4 linked regions of the Homo sapiens genome follow. The protein of the gene in region 1 purifies or fractionates together with the protein of each later gene. This does not show direct contact. Each region holds a gene or a part of one and is shown on either strand. Other genes may lie near its edges. The genes, in order: ZNF133, MRS2, TRIM24 and SAV1.

What was found.
Region 2: the proteins of ZNF133 (region 1) and MRS2 purify together in Homo sapiens (affinity purification with mass spectrometry; 2 studies listed by BioGRID and IntAct, with this or other methods). This does not show direct contact.
Region 3: the proteins of ZNF133 (region 1) and TRIM24 purify together in Homo sapiens (affinity purification with mass spectrometry; 2 studies listed by BioGRID and IntAct, with this or other methods). This does not show direct contact.
Region 4: the proteins of ZNF133 (region 1) and SAV1 purify together in Homo sapiens (affinity purification with mass spectrometry; 2 studies listed by BioGRID and IntAct, with this or other methods). This does not show direct contact.

The regions. Positions count from the first base shown.
Region 1 is NC_000020.11:18,305,517-18,312,544, forward strand, and holds part of ZNF133 (zinc finger protein 133), read left to right. Parts: intron 1-151; exon of another isoform or gene 152-164; coding exon of another isoform or gene 165-170; coding exon 171-291; intron 292-754; exon of another isoform or gene 755-781; coding exon 782-877; intron 878-1,189; coding exon of another isoform or gene 1,190-1,300; intron 1,301-4,652; exon of another isoform or gene 4,653-4,762; coding exon of another isoform or gene 4,763-4,790; intron 4,791-5,844; exon of another isoform or gene 5,845-7,028. UniProt on the Homo sapiens protein: May be involved in transcriptional regulation as a repressor.
Region 2 is NC_000006.12:24,412,919-24,419,946, reverse strand, and holds part of MRS2 (magnesium transporter MRS2 homolog, mitochondrial isoform b precursor), read right to left. Parts: intron 4,932-7,028; exon of another isoform or gene 4,915-4,931; coding exon 4,784-4,914; intron 3,551-4,783; coding exon 3,434-3,550; intron 1,864-3,433; coding exon 1,711-1,863; intron 1,487-1,710; coding exon 1,369-1,486; intron 1-1,368. UniProt on the Homo sapiens protein: Magnesium transporter that mediates the influx of magnesium into the mitochondrial matrix and regulates magnesium metabolism. Also permeable to calcium, sodium and potassium ions.
Region 3 is NC_000007.14:138,463,257-138,470,284, reverse strand, and holds part of TRIM24 (transcription intermediary factor 1-alpha), read right to left. Parts: intron 1-7,028. UniProt on the Homo sapiens protein: Transcriptional coactivator that interacts with numerous nuclear receptors and coactivators and modulates the transcription of target genes.
Region 4 is NC_000014.9:50,644,284-50,651,311, forward strand, and holds part of SAV1 (protein salvador homolog 1), read right to left. Parts: intron 5,107-7,028; coding exon of another isoform or gene 5,024-5,106; intron 732-5,023; coding exon 461-731; intron 1-460. UniProt on the Homo sapiens protein: Regulator of STK3/MST2 and STK4/MST1 in the Hippo signaling pathway which plays a pivotal role in organ size control and tumor suppression by restricting proliferation and promoting apoptosis.

The sequences.
Region 1 (7,028 bases):
GCTGGATTGAGACAGGGATTTAAAAGTCTTGGAACACATGGCACCAGGGTCACTGGGATCTTGATATCTCACCTGCCTCCCCCAGGGCAGCCTTATCCCTGCCCCTCACCCTGCCATGGGCAAGGCTGGCTTCTGAGTGAGCAGGGCTCAGTTTTGTGTTACAGGCACACATGGCATTCAGGGATGTGGCTGTGGATTTCACCCAGGATGAGTGGAGGCTGCTGAGCCCTGCTCAAAGGACTCTGTACAGAGAGGTGATGCTGGAGAACTACAGCAACCTGGTCTCACTGGGTAAGCCTGATATCTGTTAGGATTCCCATTCTTATTGCTGGGAATTTTAGGCTATGCTTGAAGCAGCCATCTTGCTTTGTTACTTGACCTTTGGGTTGGACCAAAAAGCAACTACATTTTATTCGTGTTTCCCCAGGGAGGGTCTGATTTTGCAGAGTGGAAAATGGGTAGATTTGTTGTGTGTGTGCATATGTGTATTGTGTGTGCTACTCTGCATTTCTAGGCCTTTTTTCTCAGGCTGGGGTTCTCATCCTATGTTAACTTGTTTTAAATGAGAGGGGTGTTCATCTACTCGGCATGGAATAGAATCAGTGTACTCTCATCTGAGTTCACTGCCCACTCATCCCTTCCATTTCTGAGAGCCCCACTCACCTCTTCCAACTCAGGGCTTTGTACTACCTTTGAAGTTTCCTAGGCTGTTTAGCTTTGAATTCTTGAATGGGCTCTTGAGCCCATAACCTAGTTACTTATTTTCTTTTCCTGTGAGCAGGAATTTCATTTTCTAAACCAGAACTCATCACCCAGCTGGAGCAAGGGAAAGAGACCTGGAGAGAGGAAAAAAAATGTTCACCGGCAACCTGTCCAGGTGAGTGGGAAAACACTGGACAAATGAGACATGAGCTCAGCAGCTCAGAGGACTGGGGGAGAGGAGGCGTTGCTCAGGTGCTGGGGAGGGAAGCTGTTCCCCTGACCTCCTGGGCTGCTGTTTAGATTGCCTGACACGGCCTCCCTTCCAGATCTCCATCTTCATTCGAGTATGGACGGGGCTTTCCTGGTGTCTCGTCTCCTTCCTCCACTAGGAAGCCTTTTTTCCTCCCAGTGGGTTTCTCCTCTCTAGCTCACTCAGTTCTCTTTCATATATATGGGCTTCTTTCTCTTGTTACTGTTTTTTAAAAAGATCATCAAGAATATGGAAACAACTGTGACCTACAGAAAGAAGGCAAGCCCAGTGGGAGGAAGAAATCTAAAAAGCCAATAGAGAAATTGAAATGGAATTCTAAAAAAAACTGTGAGCTATTCAAGAATGGCTTTTACATTTTATAATGTTATATAAATATCTATATAATATCCTTAATTTTGCCTCTTAACCATCAAAGCCTGAACTATTTACTATCTTTAAGAAAAAGTTTGCTGGCCCATGCTCTAAGGGAGTACAATACATAGCCTTAACTTTTTATATTCTATTAATACTTAATCTGGGTAAAATATAAAATGTAAGAGCATTGCAATTACACAGTTCCAATCACCCCCCCTCCCAACATCCTTTGTACTATAATTGTCATTTGTATTATACACTCCTTATTACAATGTTAAAATGTTTGTTTTAAATGTTCATCTGGATTTGTTTTCTACAATGTATTTTTTTAATTAAGAGAAAAAATAGTCTTTAACTTATCCAGATAATTTATCATTTTCTGTTCTTTTTGTTTGTTTGAAAATCCGAGTTTACCTTTGGTATTATTTTTCTTGAACCTTAAGGACTTCATTTGGCATTTCTTATGGTACAGGTGGCAGTGTATTCTCTATTGCTTCTGAAAGTGTCTTTATTTTACCTTCATTCTTGAAGTGTATCTTCGCTCGATGTAGAATTCTACATTGGTTATTTTTTCAGCACGTTAAAGATAGCATTCCATTGTTCTGCCTGCCATTGTTTCTGATGGAGAAGTCACCATGAACATAATTTAGCTTTATTTCCTTTGGCTACTTTTCTCCATACTTTTGGTATTCAGCAGTTTCACTGTGATGTGACTGCCTTAAGTACATTCTTCCTTTACATGTTTTTATCTGCCTGAATCTCTCTGTCCCCTTTTGGGACTATAGGCACATGTATATTAGTCCTTTTTATATAATCCCACAGGTTATAGATCCTTTCCATATTTTTAAATCTTTTTTTTCTCTCTGTTCTTTAGACTGGATGATTTCTGTTGGTCTGTCTTCAAGTTTACTGTCTCATTTGTCATTTCCAATGTGCTAAGCTCTGGCCAGTGAATCCTTCATTTCACTTATTTTTCAGTTCTGCAATTTCCATTCACTTTTACTACACTTTTCTTTGTGGTGAGATTTCCTATCTGTTCACTAATTATAATTAAATTTTACTTTATCTTCTTTAAATCAGACACTAAGTGGATAACTTATTAAGTGAAAAAGTTATAGGATTTTGTATACTATGCAGTTGAGTTTGTTGTTAAACAAAGAGAAGTGTATGAAAGAGTATATATCCATATGTTTATGTGAACATAGAAGTCTGTTGTTATTTACCATTACTAGTGGTTACCTCTGTGGGGATAGAATTGGGGAGGGTTGGACAAGGGGCTGCTGAGAATTTTTCATCCTACTTTGCATTATTTTTAAATGACAGACACATAGATAACTTTAAGAAATTATATATGTGCTTTAATTTTTAAAATTCTTTTGACAGTTTTATAAATGTTTGCACAGAAGTATATATTTTCTTTTTCTGGGTAAGAAATTTTCTCCTCTTGTTTTTATTAAATTGATTAATTCTGTCTTCAAATTGAGGGACCATAGCATACATAATATAAATTGTCGCTGTTTTTCAACTTGCTTGTATCCTTACTGTTCATCTGTTAGAAGGAATCCTAAAGCTCTCCACAGTCGTAATTTATATCAACTTCTCCATTTATTTCTAAGTTTTTGTGTTATATTTCACTTTATTGTTCTATTAGGTATAGAAAGGTTCAGGATATTTTTATCTTACTCATTAATGAAGTTTTTAATGCTGAAATTCTCTTAGTTCCATGAGCTATTGTTTCCTTTAACTTCCTCTTTATTTCTTTTTAGTCTTAGCACTGTACTTTCTGGTGCATCTTTTTGGTATTTTATTGTTCATCCTTTTATTTTAAAATAAAAACATTGTCATTTGGGTGTTTTGCTTTTAAGCAGCAGCATGTAGCTGGTGTTGCATTTGCTGTCAAACCAAGTGGTGTTAACTTTTAATAGTGACTTTACTTAATAACAGATAAATTTCATGAGACTTGCTCAGGGGTTGACTGAGGCAGATGAGTAGGTGTTTTACTACAGCAATAGGAAAGAAGGAAGGTCAGGGCAAAGGAAGTAAAGCATCTGTATTAGTCACCTTGGGCCGCCATGACAAAATACTGTGGACTAGCTGGCTTAAACAACAGAAATTCATTTAGTTATAGTTCTGGAAGCCAGAAGTTCAAGATCAAGTTGTCAGCAGGTTTGGTTGCTCTGAGTCCTCACTCCTGAACTTACAGATGGCCACCTTCCCCCTGTGTCTTCACATGGCCCTTTCTCAATGCTCACACATCTTTGTCGTCTCTTCCTCTTCTTAAAAGGACACCAGCCCCATTGGATTAGGGCCCACCCTTACGACCTTATTTAACCTTAATTACCTCTTTAAAGGCCCTGTCTCCAAATACAGTCACATTAGGGATTACAGCTTCAACATAAGAATTTGGGGGAAACACAACTCAGTCCATAACAGCATCCTTGTGAGAGCACCATAGTGATTTCATAGACTCTCCGCCGAATATATAGTTCCATAAAAGGTCAGTTGGATATGTAAGTCCATTGGATCTCAGTTGTATGAAGGAGTAAAGATGAGGGACTGGTGTATAAGCTGAAAGGTCATGGATTGGAGCCCCAAATAAGGTCAGGAACCAATGTGCCCATGGTGCTTGAGCAAAGTGAGTCAGAAGGTAGAAGAAAAGGCTGTGTCAGAGAAGGGAATGTGCACAGGAGAGAATGTGAAGATTGTGCAGTGTCTGTGAACAGCATTCACAGTGCAGGTGAGGTCAGTGTTGCTGAGAAGTTGGAGTCTTAGCCAGAGGCTCAGCCCTGTGGAGCACCCTGAGAGTGCTGACAGGTATTGGTGTGGAGAGGATGTGAGGCTGGTAGGTGATCAAATATTCAGGGCAGTGTGTGAAACCAGGAGACCTGTGGATGGTCCTAAAAAAAGTATGGTAGGTAATGGTGTGGAAGCCACATTACAAAACAAGGACATTCATCCCACTGTGTAATGCTTGAGATATGAAAGGAAGAAGCTGTCTATCTACTTGAGGGAATCTTACAAAAATCTTCCTCTCAAGGAACAAGAGAGGTGTCTAGCCAAGGACATGGAAGGAATGTTGGACAGAGAAGGAGAGGATGTAGGGGCATTATCTGACCTGTGTGTTCATTCTAGAATTGGCAGGTGGAGGCTGGGAAAATGCTATACACCCTGACCTTTGTACATTTACACAAATATGTGTTTTCTCAACCTGAAAAGTATAGAATTATCAAAACATTTATATTAATAACAAGCAGCTTACCTATCATTGTCTTAAAGCGAAACCTATCTTTTTTGTCTCGTTTTTAATCCTTGTTTTAATTTAAAGAAAAACAGCAGCTCTTACAATGATGTTGAGCACATTAAAAAGAATGCTGTACAATCCAAGGAGCAAGTCATTGTGGTTGCCCAGGAAGCTGTCTTGGAAACCCAAAATATATGTGTAACGGGAGGAAGACTGTTCTAGGTATAAAATACATCTTAACGGTTTCATTATTCTATATTTGGGACTTGGATTTAAGACAGGCAATATCAGAATCCTCAAAATAGGCTAGTTACAAGAAAAGTATTTAATTTTCTCGGCTGTTTCATTAATCAGAATGCTAATTCAATAAATGTAACGGAATCATTTGCAACAACATGGATGAACCTGGAGGATGTTATGTTAAGTGAAATGAGCCAGTCACAGAAAGACAAATACCACACAATCTTACTTATATGTGCAGTCTAAAAAGGTTGGACTCATAGAGAAAGAGAATACAATGGTGGTTACTAGGGGATGGGGGTGGTTGGGGAAGATGTTGGTCAAAGGATTTTCACATAGAAAGAATAAGTTCAAGAGATCTATTGTATAACATGATGACTACAGTTAATAACAATATATTGTATTCTTGAAAATCACTAAGAGTAGATTTTGGGTGTTCTCATCACAAAAAATGATAGGTATGTGAGGTGATGCAATATGTTAATTAGCTCAATTTAGCCATGTCACAATGTATATATATTTCAAAATGTACACAATGAATATATACATTTTTTGTCAATTTAAAAATTAATTAGTTTTTTAAAAGTAACAGGAGTTACCATAATTATGAAGAATTATATGCCCTCCTGAAGTGACTAATCCTTGTTATTTATATTGACTAAGAAGCCTGGTAAGAGGTAACACAGAAGCCTAAGAATGAGAACTAAAGCCAGGTGCTGTGGCTTGCACCTGTATTCCTAGCTACTCAGGAGGCTGAGACCAAGGCAGGAGGATCACTTGAGGCCAGGAGTTCAAGACCAGCCTGGGCAACATAGCGAGACTCTGTCTCTAAAAAAATTTTTATAATTAGCCAGGGTGAGGTGTTGTGTGCCTGTAGTCCCAGCTACTTAGGAAGCTGAGGAGGGAGGATTGCTCGAGCCCAGGAATTTGGGCTACGTGATCTATGATTGTACCACTGCACTTCAGCCTGGGCCACAGAGTGAGATCCTATCTGTAAGAAATTTAAAAAATAAAGAATGAGAAATTGGATATCTGGTGAGGTAAAAATAGAGCTTTTATTTCTAAGTTGAGTATACAAAAGACAAAAATTAGTTATTTTTCATATGGAGGACAGAAATACACCAAGTTATAATTCTTTTTTAGTTACCAGTATTATTGTCAAGTTTAAGCTTTTTTCTGTTTATTGGCAAGCTAAATAATTGTACATGTTTTTAAGCATATATAGTGTTGATGGACGGTATTTAAAGTTTTAAGTTTCAGTCTCAAATAATTAACATAAGGCTGATCTCATTAGTTTAGGCAAAAATACAAGTAAAATTATTGCATGAGAACACTTTGTATAGTTTTGTTTTTGAATTTTTTAACAAAAATATTTATTCTTATAATGATTTCCTAACAGAGATCTTAGAAATTGAAAAACAACTTAATCAGTCTTAAGTTAAAAACTGCCTGAAAAATATGCCATTTCTGGTATTTACTTTGAGTAAAGTAATTGTAGATTCACGTAATTTCTGGCACTGTCTGTAAATTATAAGATACTAGTTGGACACATATATCTACATGTGCCTAATCTTACATATTTATGAAGGCAATATTAGCCTATCTGATTTTTAAAATCAGTATAGGTTGACTCTCCCTTATCCAAAATGCTTAGGACCATAAGTGTTTCAGATTTTGGGTTTGTTTGGTTGGTTGGTTGGTTGGTTTGCATTTTGGAATATTACCATAAACATAATGAGATATCTTGGGTATAGGACCCTAGTCTAAACAGGAATTTCATTTATGTTTTGTGTACACCTTGTACACTTGGCCTGAAGGTAATTATATTTTTCCTTTGAGGATGCTGAATAAACTGAATTTTATGTGCCTGTGTTTTGACTATGACCTGTCACATGAGATCAGCTGTGGAATTTTCTACTTGTGGCTGCATGTTGGTGCTTAAAGATTTTCAGATTTTGGAACTTTGCAGATTAGGGATGCTGAACCTATATATTAGTCTTGGAAGTTTAGATTAGTTAAACTTTCTTTGAGAAAGCCTACATATCAGAACCAAGTTTTATATCACTAGAATATTATGCTAATGTTATGTTTACACTGATAAAATAAGGGAAAAGACATTGCATTTGTCTTATTTGCAGGCTTTATCTTACTTTGAAATATTGATTCCACCCTTTAGTTACATACCAGCTAGTAAGGTTGTTTACATATTGTAGTAAATAA
Region 2 (7,028 bases), on another chromosome or scaffold:
CAGAATCCAGCATCACACTGTGCCAGATGCACATCCAGGTTCAGTTCTAGAAAACTTACAATAAGCTATTCTGTGAAAACACAGTCAGTGGGTTCTGTATCTGCAGATATGCAAGGTTGACTGTACTGGGTCATTTTATATCAGAGACTTGAATACCCACAGACTTTGGTATCTGTGGGGATCCTGTAACCAATTCTTCTTGGATACTGAGGGATGACTGTACAAAACCACAGTGAAATGAAAAACTCTGGGAGTTAAGTATTATCTTAATACAGAAAGGCAACAGAGCAGTAGAAAGTGCAAGTCTTTGGGGTCATGTCCTAATTCTGTTATTTTTCCAGCTCTATGCCTGTGGGCAAGTTAAATGTTCTGAGCCTCAGTCTTCTCATCTACAAAGTAGGGATAATATATCTATTTTCAGAGTTGCAATGATTGAGCCAAATAAAGTATGCAAACCGCCTGGTACGTTGCCAGACATGTAAGAATTAAAAAATAAAAACTCTTCATTAACACTGCTTCACAGAGACACTGTTTTATCACACCTTTCCCATCTGTAATTATATGTTTTGGGAAACAAAGTAACCTAGGCTGTATTTATCTAGGTTATAACATGGTCCAACAGTACTGCCTGAATTGTGAGTTACATTATATATTTTATTTCACCATGGTAGTTTACAGGTTAGACTTTTTATTTATTTATTTTTTGAGACAGAGTCTCACTCTGTCCTGTCGCCCAGGCTGGAGTGCAGTGGTGTGATCCTGGCTCACTGCAAGCTCCGCCTCCCAGGTTCATGCCATTCTCCTGCCTCAGCCTCCGGAGTAGCTGGGACTACAGGCGTCTGCCACCACGCCCGGCTAATTTTTTGTATTTTTAGTAGAGACAGGGTTTCACCGGGTTAGCCAGGATGGCCTCGATCTCCTGACCTCGTGATCTACCTGCCTCAGCCTCCCAAAGTGCTGGGATTACAGGCGTTGAGCCAAGGTGCCCAGCCTTTATTTTTTAAATCCATTAAAAATATCGATCTTCAAAACCCAATCTTTTTTTTTGGAGACAGAGTCTCACTCTGTCTCCCAGGCTGGAGTGCAACGGCGCGATCTCAGCTCACTGCAACCTCCGCCTCCCGGGTTCAAGTGATTCTCCTGCCTCAGCCTCCCAAGTAGCTGGGATTACAGGTGCCTGCCACCGTGCCTGTCTAATTTTTGTATTTTTAGTAGAGACAGGGTTTCGCCATGTTGGCCAGGTTGGTCTCAAACTCCTGACCTCAGGTGATCCACCTGCCTCAGCCTCCTAAAGTGCTAGGATTACTGACATGAGCCACCATGCCCGGCCAAAACCCCCAAGTTTTAGAAATAATAATACATTCTCACCTCTTCAAGGGAAGATTCCAAATTCATTCCAAAAGCAACTCCCATTAGTCCAAAGAGCGAAAGAGAGAAGGTTCCCATGGTCAGCTGTAGATTCAACCTCATCATCACGTTTCGGTGGCTGGAGAGGAGAACACCTATTCAGATTAGAAGGGCCCACTAACTATATACAGCACATTCATCAAATCTATACAGACCACATGGATGAAACCTACACAACAAAAAAAATAATAATAATGTAGTATAGATGATAATGATGGCGTAATTCCTCACAAAATATTTCCTTAAAAACTTTCTTATAATTATTTTATTAAAAAAACTTAGTTTTATATAATGCTTTCTTACCTGTCCAGATTAATGAAAATAATACTTTGTGAATCATCAATCAGCACCCTAAGCTCACGAGCTGCATTGGAGAGATCGTCAGCCAATCGGTAGTAGTTTTCCAACAGCAACTCCATCTCTTCTGCATGGTCAATCCCAGCACTGCTCTTTTCACTTCAATTAAAAGAGAAAATAATTAACATACTCCCAACATGTGTATCATATACTTAGTGACAAAAACTTCCTAAATTAGTATATAGCATTCAGCTACCAGTGGAAAAGCTAGCCTTTGTCTTGTCTTGTCTTTTTTTTTTTTTGAGATGGAGTTTCACTCTGCTCCCAGGCTGGAGTGTAGTGGCGCGATCTCGGCTCACTGCAACCTCTGCCTCCCAGGTTCAAGCTGTTCTCCTGCTTCAGCCTCCCCAGTAGCTGGGACTACAGGTGCCCGCCACCACGCCCAGCTAATTTTTGTATTTTTAGTAGAGATGGGGTTTCACCATATTGGACAGGCTGGTCTCGAACTCCTGACCTTGTGATCTGCCTGCCTCGGCTTCCCAAAGTGCTGGGATTACAGGCATGAGCCACAGCGCCTGGCTGCCTTTGTCTTTTCTATTGTTGTGGCCAATCTGTGAGTACCTATGTCAACTGATCCAAAACACTTTACAGATGAGTTGAGGACAGAGGTTCCATCCTTATGTAGACCAGTTGGTGTCACTGTATTACATGGCCCCAATCCAAGAGATTTTTATGCAGATACATGCTGCCAGTTACAGGAAAATCCAGATATGTGAATGCAGATGAATTAGTGCAAAGCCAATACCACTATCAGGTAAAACAAAATCCACAACTAAAAATGTCAAGACCATTTCCTTTTGAGGTGTGTACATAATGTGATTTCATATAAAGAAAATGTTTTTGAATGATATCAGTAATAACTTTGCTCCCCTACCCTACCAAGAAGGGTAAGGGGGAATGAAGTACTCTGAAGAGGTACCTGTATCATAAAGCATATTAGAGACAGATTGACAGATTGGCCTAAGCAAAGCAAACAGTTTCTGCTACCATACCTATCGGCTATCTACCAAATGTTATATAGCCCCCTTTATCTTATTATTTCCTTATCAGGATATAAATAACCAATTTTTCAAAGTGCTGTAAGAAAATCTGTACAGACTGTGGAAACTAAACTCATTACAAAGGTGTATTAATTTCTGATACTGCTCTAGAAAGACAATAACAAAATATTTGGGTATTTAAAAGTAAACATTTAGCTGGAGTGTGCACAAGAAGCATAAACAATTTCTAAATTCATAAAAGATAAAAGGTTTATAAGATTAACATTTTCATTAGACTGAACTTACATAATCCATGTTAATGTGTTACTCGTGTATTTACCCCATCTTTTCCCTCCCCCATGTAAATTTCTCTCCCACTCTGCTTCCTAGGTAAGTTATTTTGGTAGATGTATATGCCAATCTGGTGGTCAGTCCCTTGAATATAAAGGTAACTGTGTGTTTATATTCACCACATGTCAGCAGTGTTGGGTATGCAGTATGCATACTCATAGAATTACATTGAATTAGATACGATACTGCACAGGAAAAAAGGGAAACTGGGGATGAAAAATCTCTATATTCTGTAGTCCAGAAAAATGTTACATTCTGTATGAAAAATCACCTTGAAGTGGAAAAGGCAAAAGATTTACTCTAAGGAAATAAATAACAAAGTATAATTATATACTTACAAGACTTGTGGGTCACTCCATTTTGATACACAGAGCTCTTCTAGCAACTCTTCCTCATCCAAGATCTCCAAAATTGACTCTTTGAAAATTTTAATATCTGTTTCTAACTCTGATAGACTATAAGAAATAGATACACAAAAATGATCAATAGAATAAACTTATAAGAACATTTCATAATAGTGTTTTTAGAGTATCTTATCAAATATATTATCTTATACATTCATGCTAAACAATGACTTATTTAAAAAAAAAAAAAAAGTTGAGTATTTACCAGGCAAATTAAGAATCAATTTGGCCAGGCATGGTGTCACGCCTGTAATCCTAGCACTTTAGGAGGCCAAGGCAGGAGGATTGCTTGAGCTCAGGAGTTTGAGACCCTCCTGGACAACAGTGAGATCTTGTCTCTACAAAAAAATTTAGAAAATTAGCTGGGCATGGTGGCATGTGCCTGCAGTCCCAGCTACTTGGGTGGTGGAGGTGGGAGGATTGCTGAAGGTTAAGGCTGCAGTGAGCTGAGACTGCACCACTGCACTCCAGCCTGGGCAACGGAGTGAAACCCCGTCTCAAAAACACCCACAAAAAACCCAAACCAAGGCTGCAGTGAGCTGAGACTGCACCACTGCACTCCAGCCTGGGCAACGGAGTGAAACCCTGTCTCAAAAACACCCACAAAAAACCCAAACCAGATCTAAATTAATTGGTAAAATTATCAGTGATATAAATTTCATCATACATTACTTATCTCAGAAACATAAATCGCTTGTGAATTTAAGATTTTTGGTTTGGGAATTTTATTAATCAACATGGCAGTGATAATATAGAACAGACTAGTTACTCTTAACTGATAAAAACACTCCAACATTTTTGGATAAGAAACTACTGATTCAGGAATTTTAAATGTTAATTCTTGAAGGGATTTCGGGAGTATAACTCCTGAGAGCATGTTTATTCTATTTATGATACATATATAATATTGTTATTAAATTCTGGAATGCATTATGATTTTAAAGAAAAAGAACAACATGGACTTTGAATTTGGATTTAGATCTGCCATTTACTAGCCATATAAATTTAGGCAAGTTACTCAAACCTCAATTTTCTCATCTTCAAAATGAAGACAATATCAACTATTGAATGGGTGATGAGATGAGATCACATACGGAAAAGAGCCTTACATGACATTTCATGCAAAGTATCTTTTCAACAAACAGTAGATTGTGTGCCCCTTTTAGCTCAACTTCCCACCTAGGCTACTTTCATACTTTAAAAAAAGTTATGAAACAAAATGTTAATAATTGATTTTAAGATATTTGTCTCCAACTCCCAATGTGATACATCATCCATATTTACCTTTTGCCATTCTGTAGTAAAATGTGCAGTTTGCTTCTGTCTACAGAAGAATGTTTGGGGTCCACCAAAGCATCCAAGGTCTCAAGGATCAGTGGCTGCAAAATGCTAAGTTTCCCCTGAAGGGTGTTGATCTAGATAACAACATGACCTTTCATAAGAATTAAAACAATCTTTTTAGAATATTCAGGATCAGTGAATCCTCTGATTAAATACAGAAATCTGTAGTAGCTTGAAATGCTGGTAACATTTCAGAACATAGATAATTCTAGAATGCCTATTCCAGATGATTCAAAAACTAGATCCTCTGGGTTCAAAGAACTATGTATGATGTTATCTTTAGGCACAGATTTGGTTGACAAGGAGCTAACTCTCGTAAGAGTCTTTCTCCTCCCGCCCGGCCAGCCGCCCCGTCCGGGAGGTGAGGGGCACCTCTGCCCGGCCGCCCCGTCTGGGAAGTGATGAGCCCCTCTGCCCAGCCGCCACCCCGTCTGGGAGGTGTACCCAACAGCTCATTGAGAACGGGCCACGATGATGATGGCGGTTTTGTCGAATAGAAAAGGGGGAAATGTGGAGAAAAGAAAGAGAGATCAGATTGTTACTGTGTCTGTGTAGAAAGAAGTAGACATAGGAGACTCCATTTTGTTCTGTACTAAGAAAAATTCTTCTGCCTTGGGATGCTGTTAATCTATAACCTTACCCCCAACCCTGTGCTCTCTGAAACATGTGCTGTGTCCACTCAGGGTTAAATGGATTAAGGGCGGTGCAAGATGTGCTTTGTTAAACAGATGCTTGAAGGCAGCATGCTCGTTAAGAGTCATCACCACTCCCTAATCTCAAGTACCCAGGGACACAAACACTGCGGAAGGCGGCAGGGTCCTCTTCCTAGGAAAACCAGAGACCCTTGTTCACATGTTTATCTGCTGACCTTCCCTCCACTATTGTCCTATGACCCTGCCAAATCCCCCTCTCCGAGAAACACCCAAGAATGATCAATAAATACTAAAAAAATTTAAAAAAAAAAGTCTTTCTCCTATAGACATTCATTATGAAGTAATGAGGGATCAAGTAAAATAAAATCTGCTATTATTAAAACACAAGCTTTCAGTAATACCTGTGTTCTCTGTAAACAGAATATGGTTCAAAATTCCTACAAAGCTCTTTGAAAATAAAAACTTGAGCTTTAAAACATAAACATATCAGAGTAAAGTCAAAAATAGACTATTTAGGTTAACACAAGTATGGTTTGATATTTGATATTCGGCAGGTATGCACTAATCCTGCTATATAGTTGTTAAAATACTGAAACACTTCCATGCCAGTTGGCAAATAGCATATACTAACTAAATCAAGCGGTAAAACTGATGACGTAAATTACAGCATATAGTCTTTATCTCAGAAGCACAATTACTGTGAAACAGATTTTTTTATTTGGAAACAAGTCCAGAGTCACAGTGCCTCTGCAGACATGTTGTTTATTTCGTCTCCAGAGGAACTGCTTCCGGGTTAAGAAGTCCTTGGGTGGGAGGGAAGACTGGACAGCCAAATAGGCAGACCACATCTTTTAATCTAAGAGATATCAAACCCTCTGCTCAGCAAGGTGTGGACTTTTGTAGTGGTTGGGGAGGCTGCTGAGGGTCACAGATAGGGTATTTGTGAGGCATATCTACTCATGGTATGTCTTGGTCCCTTAGGTGGGTTTGGGGAGCTTTCCCTTGTTCGAAAACTTATCCCTTTTGAGAGGTGGCTGGTCTTGCTTCTATGTAGTGTTGTTTCGTAAGGAAATCTTCCTGGGACCCCATTTAAAGGAAGAAGAATGTGTATCCCAGCAGACATCCTGAACTCCCTCTCTATTCTCCCCACAGCCAATCTCTAGGCCGGAGACCCATGCCAGCCTAGCCTCTCTCCTTCCCCTCCTGCTCCCTTTAAGATCCCTGTCTTTCTCCTAACAGCATGAGCTCCTGAGAGCTTACCCAGCCTGTGGAGCCCATGACTTACCACTGTTTACATCTTCTTTCTCTCTTCTGCTTTCCCCCTGCTTGGTAACTGGGCTCCCACTACTTATCATCTCACTGGCTGGTGCTAGCTGGTGCTCATTAATTACCCCAAGCAGGAAGTGTAGCCATCTATTCTTTCAGAGCAAGGCAGACAAAAGAAAAGTGTGCCAGGTTCACCCAACCCAATGCACCTCATGTCCTCTCTACCCTCTCTCCTCCTCCCACTCTGGTTAGTATGCTCCCAGCACCAA
Region 3 (7,028 bases), on another chromosome or scaffold:
GTGGCACACGCCTATGCTCCCAGCTACTTGGGAGGCTGAGGCAGGAGGATCGCCTGAACCCAGGAGGCAGAGGTTGCAGTGAGCCAAGATCACACCACTGCACTCCAGCCTGGTGACAGAGAGAGACTCCATCTCAAAAAAAAAAAAAAAAAAAAAAAAAATTATACTTGTAGGAGGCAAAAACAAACAACAGAGTCTGCAGTATCGAAATCCCATGACCTCTAGGGCAGCTGTGTACAGTTAAGATAGGTTATACAGTACAAGGAACTGCCTGACTGGAGGGGAAATGTAGACTTACAGGCAAATGGGGGTCCACATTCCACTTCCTAAGGCACACATCCTTTGGTCCTGTATGTCAAGAGGACTCTTAATTTCTAACTCACACAAATACCATTTGGGCTTGAGGCAGCCTTAATCCCTTCTCTCAGGATACTCCATACAGCATATGTGAAATGTAGCCATTTGACATGCTTATTCATGTGACTGTGACAAACTATATATCAAGTACTTTAAAGCTCAATTTCTGAAAAGAAGTTCTAATGTCTTCCCTCACCTGAATGGATATTTTATTGCATATGTGGTGTGCCACACCACATTACAGAATAAAATATAATGGCACTTAGTCATGCCATTTTGGAGACTACTGGTCTAAGTGTGTATTCAAAATGCTGGAGTAAAATTAAGAAAGGGCTCGGCAGCTCACACCTGTAATCCCAGCACTTTGGGAGGCTGAGGCAGGTGGATTACCTGAGGTCAGCAGTTCAAGGCCAACAGGGTAAAATCCCGTCTGTACTAAAAATACAAAAAAATTAGCAAGGTGTGGTGGTGTGTGCCTGTAATCTCAGCTACTTGGGAGGCTGACGCAGGAGAATTGTTTGAACCGGGGAGGTGGAGGTTGCAGTGAGCCAAGATGGCCACTGCACGAGACACTGTCTCAAAAAAAAAAAAAAAAATTGAGAAAGGGGTCAAGGTTACATTGCAGAAAGAAATTTGAAAAACTTGTGCATCTAGTTGATAGTTTAACTTCTTGAAGAAAAATTAAACAGAGAAATCTAGAGACCTAAAAATGAAAGTTTACAAATTACCCACATTTGGGTATATTTAAAAAGGTACAATGAAATTAAAAAGCATTCTTCTGACATCAGTTTTCCACCAGGAATAGAGTAACTAGTACTGAGACAAGCTTTCCTGTCATTAATTACTGTATATTACCAGGACAGATACCTTAGGCAACTTTTCAGACAATGGACAAAAGGCAATGCAGTACTGTGATCCATGAGGAAAGAAAAGCTCAGGTGAATAAGCCCCCTAAATCTTGATTCCCTAACTGAGGACTATTTTGTGATCATGGTTCATGGAGCTACAGCCAATGCAGAACATAGCAAAGGAGCCAGAGAGATTCGGGGATTGTGAACCAGATGGAATATATAGGGCAAAGCACTTGGGAGAAGGGAGCTGAACAGAGAAAGGGTGCCAGTAGTCTATGTAAGGGTTTTGCCAAGTCCTTGGCTGAAGGCTACTACGCATGTGCAGAGCAAGTCCATGGGAAGTTTACCAGAGAGCAGCTGCTAAGGGATTGAGAGAGAAGCAAAGATACTGGAGGCCAAGCAGGAACAAAGAGAAAACAAATAAAAAGATGTCAGTCTTAAACCTTGCCATACCAACAATTACATAAAATATAAATGGATTAAACAAAAGCAAAAATTAAAAGCTGGGATAAAAAAGTAAGACAACTATACGCTATCTACGAGATACTTTAAAAAGCTAGAAGTAAAAGCATGGGAAAAATATACCATTCAAACACATAGATTAAAAAAACAATGGCATTAATATCAGGCAAAGTAGACCATAACATAGCATTATAGGAAGCAAAGAACATTTCACCTTAAAAAAGGGCAGGCAATTCATAAAAGCTTCAAAATACCTGTAGCAAAACCAAGTGAGGTATATCTCAAGAATGCAAGATTGATTTAACATCTAAAAATCAACGTAATTCATACATTAACAAAAAAAGGAGACAAATTGCATGACCATTTCAATAGACACAGGAAAAGTACATGGCAAAATTCATCACCCATTCATAATAAAAATTCTCAGCATATTAAAAATAGAAGGGAACTTCTTCATTTTGATAATGGGCATCTATAGAAAACAGCTAACATATTAATGGTGAAAAATTGAGTGTTTTCCTCCTAAGATGAGGAATAAGGTAAGGAAATCCTTTCTCATTTAATACTGAAATTCAACTTCTAGTCAATATTGTATTGGAGTCCTTGCTGGTGCAATAAGAAGACATAAATTATTAAGAATAGAAAGCAAGAAGTAAAGCTATCTCCCTGTAGACTACATAGAAAATCCTAAGGAGTCCTTGAAACAAAAAAAAAAGATACTTAATAATCGAATTTAGCAAGATAATGGGATGAAACCAATAATCGTATTTCAATATACTACCAACAGTTTGAAATGAAAATTTTAAAAATATCATATACGATATCATTTAACATTATAAAATGTTTAATATTTATACTATGTAAACAAAAATTGTACAAGAATGCTACAATGAAAACCACAAGACAGTGCCGAGAATTTAAGAGATAACACATATTCACAGATTGGAAGAACCAATATTGTTAAGAACATTATGGCTGGGTGCAGTGGCTCACGCCTGTCAATATCAGCACTTTGGGAGGCCGAGGCGGGCAGATCACCAGGTCAAGAGATCGAGACCATCCTGGCCAACATGGTGAAACCCCGTCTCTACTAAAAAATACAAAAATCAGCTGGGCGTAGTGGCGCATGCCTATAGTCCCAGCTACTCAGGAGGCTGAGGCAGGAGAATCACTTGAACCTGGGAGGCGGAGGTTGCAGTGAGCAGAGATCACATTACTGCACTCCAGCCTGGTAACAGAGCAAGACTCATCTCAAAAAAACAAAACAAAACAAAACAAAACAAAACACATTCCCCCTTACCCAAATTGATATCTAGATTCAATGTAATTCCAATCAAAACCATGACAGACTTTTGTGTAGAAACTGAAAAGCTGATTCTAAAATGTAAAGAAATGCAAATGACTTCAAAGAATCATAAGAATTTTGAAAAAGAACAAACTGTCAAATTTCAAAATTTGCTGAGAAGAGTACTGTAATCAAAAAACATTATGTATTAGCTGAATGGACAAATCAATAAAGAACAGACCACACACAGATGGCTGATTTTTGTATAAAAATGCCAAAATAATATAATGAAAAAGTACTGTCTTTAATAAATGGTGTTTTAACATACAGTTTTTAAAAAAATGAACCTCAACCTCACACAAAAAATAACTCACAAAATGGATTACAGGTTTATATTTTAAAGCTAAAACTATAAAAATGCTGGGTTAAAAAGTGGAGAAAATCTTAGTAAACTTGGGGTAGGCAAAAAATTGTTAGATAGGACACAAAAGTCATTAACCATAAAATAAATTGATAAACCAGACTTAATCAAAATTTAAACCTTTAGCTCTTCAAAAGACACCAAGAAAATGAGCATGCAAGCCAGAGTCAATACCTGCAATACATGTATCTGACAAAGGACCTAGATATAGAATATATATAAAGAACTTTACGTTTCAATAAAAAGGCAAACTCCCAGCCAGGCGTGGTGGCTCACGCCCATAATCCCAGCACTTTGGGAGACGAGATGGGTGATCACTTGAGCTCAGGAGTTGAGAGACCAGCCTGAGCAACATGGCGGAGGTTGCAGTGGGCTGAGATGGCGCCACTGCACTCCAGTATGGGCAACACAGTGAGATGCTGTCTCCAAAAAAAAAAAAAAAAAAGCAACTTAAGTTTTGAAATTTGCAAAAGACAAACCAAAATCTCACCAAAAAAGAATGACTACTAAGCACAAGAAAAGATGCTCATCATTATTCATCAGAGAAATGAAAACCAAAACCATGAGATAGCTTTTCTCACCTACTAGAATGGTTAAAATTTAACAGACTGACAGGCCAGGCACAGTGGCTCACGCCTGTAATCCCAGCACTTCGGGAGGCCGAGGCGGGTGGATCACCTGAGGTCAAGAGTTCAAGACCAGCCTGGCCAACATGGTGAAACCCTGTCTCTACTAAAAATACAAAAAAATTAGCCAGGTGTAGTGTAATCCCAGCTGCTTGGGAGGCTGAGGCAGGAGAATCGCCTGAACCCTGGAGGTGGAGGTTGCAGTGAGCCAAGATGGCACCACTGCACTCCAGCCTGGGCGACAGAGTGAGACTCCGTCTCAAAAACAAAAACAAAAAAAACTTTTAAAGACAATACCCAAAACTGGGGAGAGTGTGAACAAACTTTGGAGAGAACTGCTGGAGGGTCTATAAAGTAGTACAAGCAGTGTAAACATACATTTATCATAAAAACAAGAAATTCCAATTCTAAGTTATTTCCTCAGGGAAATGACAATGTATCCACACCAAGACTTTTCTACAAATACCTTTAAGTTTTATTCATAATAGCTCCAAACTAAAAAATACTGATACCTACTAACAGGTGAATAAAAATATGTATATTTTTATATATATAGGACTGACAGGTAACACAGATCATTCTTAAATATTAATCCTTTGCCATTAAAGATTGCACTCATGAGATGATTTATACTTTTTGCCAAGAAATCAGTCCCAGAATAGTTACGTATCTTGTATACTGCCAGTTAGTAAAGAAATCTTGGAAAAGGGATTTAGTCTTATATTTTAACCCTCTCTAGACAAATAATACCTTTCAAAAGTATGTTCTCAGTATTTGTTAAAAATAGCTCTTCAATATTGTCTTTTAGGTAGAGAGGAAAAAACTGCTCTCAAACTCCCAGTTTGCTACTCATTAGCTGAACAGTACGTTAACAACACAAAATACTACACAATATTATAACATTTCTCTAAGATCAGTTTGTTTTCTTAACATACGTAAAAGAAAATCCATTTCCTAAAGTTTTGCCTCTCTCCTAGATATAACTGCATACTAAGAAAATGACAGTCAAGACTGAAGGAGTCATCCAATTTTAACTTGTGGTCATTCACCCTCATTCCTTCCAACATGTAGCCTGAGAAAAAAGGACAGTTAAACCGAAGTTTTAAAACAAATGTTCTCAATGGGAGCTTGGTGGCCAGTGTAATTGTATCTGAGCATTTATAAATTATACTTTTCTGCTGTTATTTGCTTCATTTTATTTCTCCTTTAAAACAGTTCAAACATTATGTTTACTTTTGTAAGAAAAATGTGTTAGGATTTTTTTTCCCCATGAAATTCATTTAGGATGACAAAGAGAGCATGAAAAGTATTTTATAGAAAGGGAAACTAGATCTGAAACAGTTTTAGAATACTGCTTGCATTAAAGAAACAATTCTAGAGTGTAACTGTATTATACCCTAGCATTCTGCAACTACGCCAGATTAGGTAGAATCAGATTTTCAGGAGGGAGGGGCCTAAAAATCTAAATTTTTTTTAGGTGTTAAAGTTTAGTGGTGTTAAAGTTTGAAAATCTCCAGTTTTTGAAATCTAAAAAGTGTATGAAATATAACATATTTGGCCTCAACAAACCTATTGTTTGGCCTATAGCATGGGCCCATAAATTAATTGTGTGTGTGTATATATATTTATGTGTATAAATATTCACACATTTTTAATTAGTTGACAATATCTAATACTAGAAAAATTTTGTTCAAAAATCCAGATTCAGAATTTGCATTAAATAAATAAAAGATCCTTCAATACTTGCCCTGCACTCACATGACAAATTGCTATAGCTAAGAAGAGTCTGCCCCCCTGCTTGTACTCCCCATCATTTCCTACCATTTTACCCCAAGGCTCACACAGTTCTCCATCCCAACTACCTATTTAACCTTTGTGTAATAGATATTACTTGACTTGTGATGCCTGTACTCACAAATTCAGTAGGAAAATGAAGAACTGGTTTGATCAAATGAACCCGTTATTTAGTTAAGCAATGTCTAAATTTGGCTGGCTGCGGTGGCTCACACCTGTAATCCCAGCACTTCTGGGGGCCAAGGCAGGCGGATCACAAGGTCAGGAGATCGAGACCATCCTGGCTAACACGGTGAAACCCCGTCTCTACTAAAAAATATAAAAAAATTAGCCGGGCGTGGTGGCATGTTCCTGTAGTCCCAGCTACTCAGGAGGCTGAGGCAGGAGAATGGCCTGAACCCGGGAGGCAGAGCTAGCAGTGAGCCGAGATCGCACCACTGCACTCCAGCCCGGGCGACAGAGCGAGACTCCGTCTCAAAAAAAAAAAAAAAAAAAAAAAGTCTAAATTTTTGCTTCAGCTAGTATTAAAATAAGTATGCAAGGAGAGATAAAGGGACAAAATACCCAAGTCACTAAGACTCAGGATAGCATTTTTAATTTTTTAAAGATAACTTTAATTCTTTTTAGGTGTACTTTTAAGTACAATTTGTTAAAACGTTTTTCCTAGTATAAAAACAAAAACATCTTCCAATTTAAACGCTTTCTTTGAACTCTTGCGTACAATACAGCATAAAGATAAAAAATATTCAGATTGTAATTACACAGAACATTTTGAGAAGTATGGAATCACAAACTTGTCTCAGAATTGAGGATGATAACTTTACGACCCATGTTCTCATTAATTCAAGTCCATATGTCATGGCCAGGCAAACAATATGTCATAATTCTATAATCATGCACAATTCAGATCTTAATTGGCTACAAGCCTGTTTAACCATTTAAAATATAAATGGAAGAGGACGGGTGGGGTGGCTCACACCTGTAATCCCAGCACCTACAGAGGCTGTGGCAGGTGGATCACCTGAGGTCAGAAGTTCGAGACCAGCCTGGCCAACATGGCAAAACTCCGTCTCTACTAAAACAAAACACAAATTAGCCAGGTGTGGCGCCCAGCTGAGGCACAAGAATCGCTTGAACCAGGGAGGCAGAGGTTGCAGTGAGCTGAGATTGTGCCACTGCACTCCAGCCTGAACGACAAAGCGAGGTAGGAAGGTAAGAAGGTAGGAAGGTAA
Region 4 (7,028 bases), on another chromosome or scaffold:
TCCCAATTTTCACTTTCTTGTCTAGTAATAGCAAGAAACAGAACATACAATCATGTCTGAAATAGAATAAACAGCAAAATGTTATAATTCAATTGTACATTCTGACTTAGGGGGTAGGTCTGTTATTATTTGTAAAAATTTAAGTGTAAGAAGGCAGAAGCTTTAATTATTTAATTTTCTGGACACCTATAACAAAAACATTCTGGCATTACTACAGCAGAATCTGATCATAAGAACAATGATCTTGTTTTTGAGGTTTTTTTAAAGAGAAAAGTATTTTTTTAACTTATTAAAGTCATTTATTACTAAATGTATGTCCAGAGAAAAATGTAAATTTTGAAATATAAGGCTTTCAAATCTCAAGCTTTAGGATGCTATTCTCTTAGATGAAAATATCAGTTCAAAACCTAACATTAGACAATCCCGAAACAAAAAGTTGAAAATAAAGTTGATACTGTACCTAGGAGCACAGGGATGCCTGTATTGGGCCTTCTTATTTGTGTGATCTACATAATAGGTTCCAAATTCGGATGACTCAACTCGTTCCCATCCAGGAGGAAGTCCTTCTCGCTCAAGAGGATGGCTCCAGTGAGTTGTATTTGTGTTATGATCTATATAATATTTTCTCCCTCTCATTGTCCAGTCCACAGACCAGCCAGGAGGAAGGGGTAAATCTTCAGAACCATGGTTAGTCAAATTTCCTAAAGATGTAGCAGCAACTCTCCCAATACCTACGGGGAAAGAGAAAATGATAGAGAAGAAACAGAACAATTATTCAATGCAAAAAATGTGCCAGCTAGCAAAGTCACAACATTAACTATCCTGATTGTACTCTTCTATTTAAATTCATGATTATGCCCATTATGATGGTTTTCATAAAACTAGTCGGTATTACTATTAAGGAATTATAAAAAGGGGGAGGAACTAGACTTTGAAATTAGTAGAGGGTTTTTTGGCTGATGCTTCCATCAACAGGCCATACAAACACTTAACAACAGGTTGAGCATCCCTAATCCAAAAATCTGAAATTTGAAATGCTCCAAAATCCAAAACTTCGAGAGCTGACATGTTGCCACAAGCAGAAAATTCCACACCTGACCTTATGTGATGAGTCATAGTCAAAATTCAGTCAAAACTTTGTTTTATGCACAAAATTATTTAAAATATTATGTAAAATTACCTTCAGGCTATGTGTAGAAGGTATATATGAAATATAAATGAATTTCATGTTCAGATTTGGGATCTCTTCCCAAGATATCTTATTATGTACATACAAATATTCCAAAATAAAAAAAAAAATCCAAAATCTCAAACACTTCTGGTCCTAAGCATTTTGGGGTAAGGGATAATCAACCTGTGGCAGTAAAGCTACTTAAGTATGTATACTGCCAAAAGAAAAGTGGGAAAAAGAAAATTTCCCCTGATTAAAGATTTGACATTTCAGCTTTAAAAAAAATGTAAAAATGAACTTGTAAAACCATTCCCGGTTATAAATTCTTAAAAGTAATCTGGCTGTGCCCTAGAATTATTAAGTAAGCTTAAGGTAGCAGGGTTAAGGTCACCATACAAAAATTAATATTTATATATTAACAAACAACAACTGGAAACAAAAGTTATTGAGATAATATAATTTATAATAGCTCCAAAGAATTGTGCAGGACCAATATGCTAAAAACTACAAAACACTGATGAAAGAAATAAAAAACCTATCACATTAACGGATTGGAAGATTCGACATAAAGTTAAGATGTCAATTCTCCTGAAATTATCTTTATCTTTATAGGAGTCCCCCCCTTATCCATGGGGGATCCATTCCAAGACCTCCCGTAGATGCCTGAAACTGCAGATAGTACCTAACCCTGTGTATGCTGTGTATTTTCCTATACATACGTATCTATGATGAAGTTTAACTTATAAATTAGGCACAGTAAGGGATTAACAAAAATAAAATTGAACAATTATTATAATAAAAACTGGGTGAATGTAATCTCTCTCCCTCTCTCTTGAAAGATCTTGTACCATATTCATCAATTTTCAGACTGCAGTTGCAGAGGTAACTGAAACTGTGGAAAGCAAAACCATGGATAAAGCGAGACTACTGTCATTCCAATAAAAATTCCGGCCGAGCGCAGTGGCTCACGCCTGTAATCCGAGCACTTTGGGAGGCCAAGGTGAGCGGATCACCTGAGGTCCGGAGTTTGAGACCAGCCTGACCAACATGGTGAAACCCCGTCTCTATTAAAAACACAAAAATTAGCCGGGCGTGGTGGCGGACGCCTGTAATCCCAGCTACTCGGGAGGCTGAGGCAGGAGAATTGCTTGAACCCGAGAGCAGAGGTTGCAGTGAGCTGAGAACGCGCCATTACACTCCATCCTGGGCGACGAGAGTGAAACTCTGTCTCAAAAAAAAAAAAAAAAAAAAATTCCATGGAGTTTTTGTAGATACAGATAGTTATTAAACAGATTTTAAAATGTATACTGAAAGGCAAAAGAGAACTAGAGTAGCCAAAACAATTTTTTTGAAAAAGGGATAAAGTTGAAGGACTCACACTACCTGATTTTTAAGGCTTACTATAAAGCTACATTAATCAAGACAGTATGGTATTGTCAGAAGAACAGACAAATAGATAAATGGAACCAAACAGAGAATCCAGAAGAACACCCACACAGACATGGTCAACTGATTTTTTTATAAAGGTGAAAGGGCAATAGCGGGGAAAGGTTTTTCCAACAAATGATGTTGCAACAACTGGACATCCATATGCAAAAAACCTAATCACAACCTATACCTGCCACCTTACATACAAATTAACTAAAAATAGATCATATATCTAAATTTAAAACTATAACGCTTTTACAAGAAAAAAATAGAATAAATTTTCATGAGTTTAGTTTAGACAAAGAGTACTTTTTTTTACCATGATGCTGAAAGTTCAACTCATAAAGAAAAAATACTGATTAAATTGAACTCTGTCAAGATTAAAAACGCTTGTGAAGGACACTAAGAGAAAGAAAATCAAGCTGTAAACAGGGAGAAAATGTTTGCAAATCACATTATTAGCCAAAGAACTCTGACCTAGAATATACAAAGAATTCTCAAAACTCAACATTAAGAAAACAACCCTGAGCCTGCTGCAGTGACACGCACCTGTAGTTCAACCTACTCAGGAAGCTGAGTAGGAGGGTTACTTGAGCCCAAGATTTCAGGTCTGTAGCACACTATCATCATGCCTGTGAACAGCTACGGCACTCCGGTCTGTGCAACAGAGTGAAACCCCTTCTCTCAAAACAAAAACAGAAGAAGAAAACAAAACGACCCAGTTAAAAAAAAGGGGGGTAAGAATTTTTAACAGGCACTTCACCGAAGACAACATATTGATGGTAAATAGCACGTGAAAAAATGCTCAGGATCATAATTAGCCGTGAGAGAAATGCAAATTAAAACCATAATGAAATGACAATACACGTCTATGAAAATGGCCAAAAAACCAAACAAAACCTGACAATGCAAGTGCTTACATGGATACAGAACAATTGGAATGCCCATACACTGCTGGTGTGGATGCAAAATGCTACAGTCACTCTGGAGAACAGCTTAGCAATTTCTTATAAAGTTAAACATATGCTTTTCATATGCTACAGCAATCCCATTCCCAAATATTTACCCTAGAGAAATGAGAAGTCATCTTCACACAAAATCCCATTTGTGGATATTTACAATGACTGTATTCATATTTGCCCCAAAGTGGAAATGACACACATGTCCTTTAACAGAATGGATAAACAAACTGTGGTGCAACTGTACAGTGAAATCTACTCAGGAATAAAATGGAACTAATTATTGGTACATGCAAGAATCTCAAAGATGAATCTCAGAAGTATCATGCTGAGGGAAAGCAGCCAGTCTCAAGTGGCTACAAATTGTACAGTTCCATTTTTATGAGATTCTTCCAAACACAAAACTACTAGGACAGAAAACAGTGATTGCTAGGAACTGGAGGTGAGGGACAGGAGTTGACTATAAGAGGACAACCTAAGGGAATTTTAGAGGGTGTTTGAAATGTTCTGTATTCTCATTACACAGGCATTACATGAAATCTATACATATGTTAATACTCAGAACTGTGTAACTTGAAAAAAGTTAAATTTACTATACTTTTTAAAAGAATAATCTGGCTGCATAATTTTATTCTCACACAAGAATACTAATAGTTGGCCGGGTGCGGTGGCTCATGCCTGTAATCCCAGCACTTTGGGAGGCCGAGGCGGGCAGATCATGAGGTCAGGAGATCGAGACCATCCTGGCTAACACGGTGAAACCCCATCTCTACTAAAAATACAAAAATTAGCTGGGCGTGGTGGCGGGCGCCTGTAGTCCCAGCTACTTGGGAGGCTGAGACAGGAGAATGGCGTGAACCCGGGAGGCGGAGGTTGCAGTGAGCCGAGATTGCGCCACTGCACTCCAGCCTGGGCGACGGAGCAAGACTCCGTCTCAAAAAAAAAAAGAATACTAATAGCATATGTATAACAAATCACCCCGAAACTCAGTGGCTTAAAACAAGAAGTATTTATTTGGTTCACCACAGGTTGGTGATACTGGCTGAGCTCAGTAAGTTTTTTCCTTGATATTTGGTACAAGTTATCTTTACTGTCTCATTACTTGATGAAAGTTATCTCTTGTATAACTTTCAATATGAAGCCCTACTGATGATCAGACCTCCATTTCTTCTCTGACTTAAGCTGCTATTTTTTTTACCCTTAGCTCACTCTGTTCCAGCTACACTCACCTCCTGGATGCTGTTCTCAAACACGGCAGGTACTGGCTGTTTATTCTCCCTAGAAGATTCTTCCTTCAGATATTCTCTTGGCTCACTCTCACCCTCTTCAAGCCTCTTCTCAAATGTTTCAATGAAGCTTATTCTTACTATGGCAGTCTACATCTGCTGAGCTTCTACTTACCGTTTTACTTTTTTAAAAAGCACTTTAACCTTTTAACTTATGTAATTTTAGTTTGTTTATTTACCTACAAGAATCCCACAAAGAAGATTCTTAGGACAGGAATCTTTGTTTTGTTCACAGATACATCTCCAGTCTCTAGAACAGTGTCTACAGAATAAAGCACATAGTAAGTGTTAAATAAATAAGCTGCAGTAATAAAGACAGTGTAGTATTAGTGGAGGAGATACACACATCAATGAGACAGAAACTGCATAAATATTTTCCTTGATTTTTGGACTTATTTTGCCTCTTTCACTCCCATATTTTACTAGTTCTGAAACGAAGGTGTTTTTTATAATCAAGAGAGTAAATCTGTTAGCCACTAGGCAGCAAATACAGATGTATTATCATTGCTGGTGCATGTTCTAACACAGTCCTAGGAAGACAGTATGTGGTTCATACTATTATTAATCCTCATTATTTGTAACAGTTGCACCCCAGACAAAATTTTAACATAAATTTGAATCCCTGTGCCTGAAAGGTACAAGGATACAGCATTTAAATGAAAAGTTAGTGTGTTAACAGAAGACTGCCAGTCAACCCAAGGCCCTAACTGCCAAATTTAGAATATCTCAGAATGGTCAAAATAAGAAAGACTGGGTGACCATTGAGGTGTGAAGGAGTACCATGCCAGAGCAAAACATCTACTAGTCAAAAGTTCCCAGCTGACTTTGAAGAGCTTTTAAAATTACAGTTGGCTGGAAACTAAGGCAAAATGAAAACATCAAGTTTACCTTTAAAGAAAGGCAAATGAAACAGACCCCAGTGACAAAAGGTAATTTAGAAGAAACTTTAAAATTAAGGTAAATGCTTCAATTCAAACTCAGATTCTAAAGAAGGATATGTAAGTGTATGGATAAATACGGGTTATTGGCATGTGGTTTAAGAAACTGTTTTTATTTAAATACAACATACAATGCATATGCATAAGGCTAGTCACTGCAGCAACATCTATAGTTGCAAAAGGCTAGAAATCAACCAAATGTCCAATAATAGCAAACTGGATGATTACACTATTACACGCACAGAACAGAGTACTATATTATATAGCTGTAAACATGAATGAAGATGATTTCTATTTATTGCCCTGGAATAATATTCGGGATGTATTATGTGAAAAAAGAGTCTGGACAGTACACCACCATATATACATATATGTAGTAGCCAGCCAGTAAGGTGAACCTGGGCCCCAATTATCCCTGTCCTCCTGGGATTCACACCCTTGTCTGTGTGACCAATAGTTTATGGCAGAAAGGATGGTGTGTGACTTCTGAGATTAGGATATAAAAGACCGTGCAGCTTCTGCCTTGGTCAAGTGTACTTGCTCTCTCATCACTCACCCTGGGGGAAACCAGATACCATATCATGAGAAGCCCATGAGTGAGGAATTGAGGCCTTCAGCCAGAACTGAAGCCTCCTGTTAACAGCCTTGTGAGTGAACTTAGAAGCGGATCTTTTGGCCGGGCGCAGTGGCTCACACCTGTAATCCCAGCACTTTGGGAGGCCAAGGTGGATGGACCACCTGATGTCAGAAGTTTGAGACCAGCCGGGCCAAGACGACAAAACCCTATCTCTACTAAAATTACAAATAATTAGCTGGGCGTGGCGGCACATGCCTGTAGTCCCAGCTACTCAGGAGGCTGAGGCAGGAGAACACTTGAACCTGGGAGATGGAGGATGCAGTGAGCCGAGAGCGCGCCACTGCACTCAAGCCTGAGCAACAGAGAGAGACTCTGTCTCCAAAAAAAAAAAAAGAAAGAAAGAAATGGATCTTTCAGCCAGAGCGAAGCTTCGGATAACTGCAGCCCCAGCTGACGTGTGTGAACTCCAACTTCATGAGAGATCCTGAGTCAGAATGACCTGGCTAAGCCGCTTCCAAAATCCTGAACCACAGAAACTGAGATAATAAATGTTTATTGTTTTATGCCAATGAGTTTGGAAGTAATGTGTTTTACAGCTACAGAAACCTAACACAATACATATGAAAGAGAATAATATGAATACATATTTTACATATATATGTAATTTGT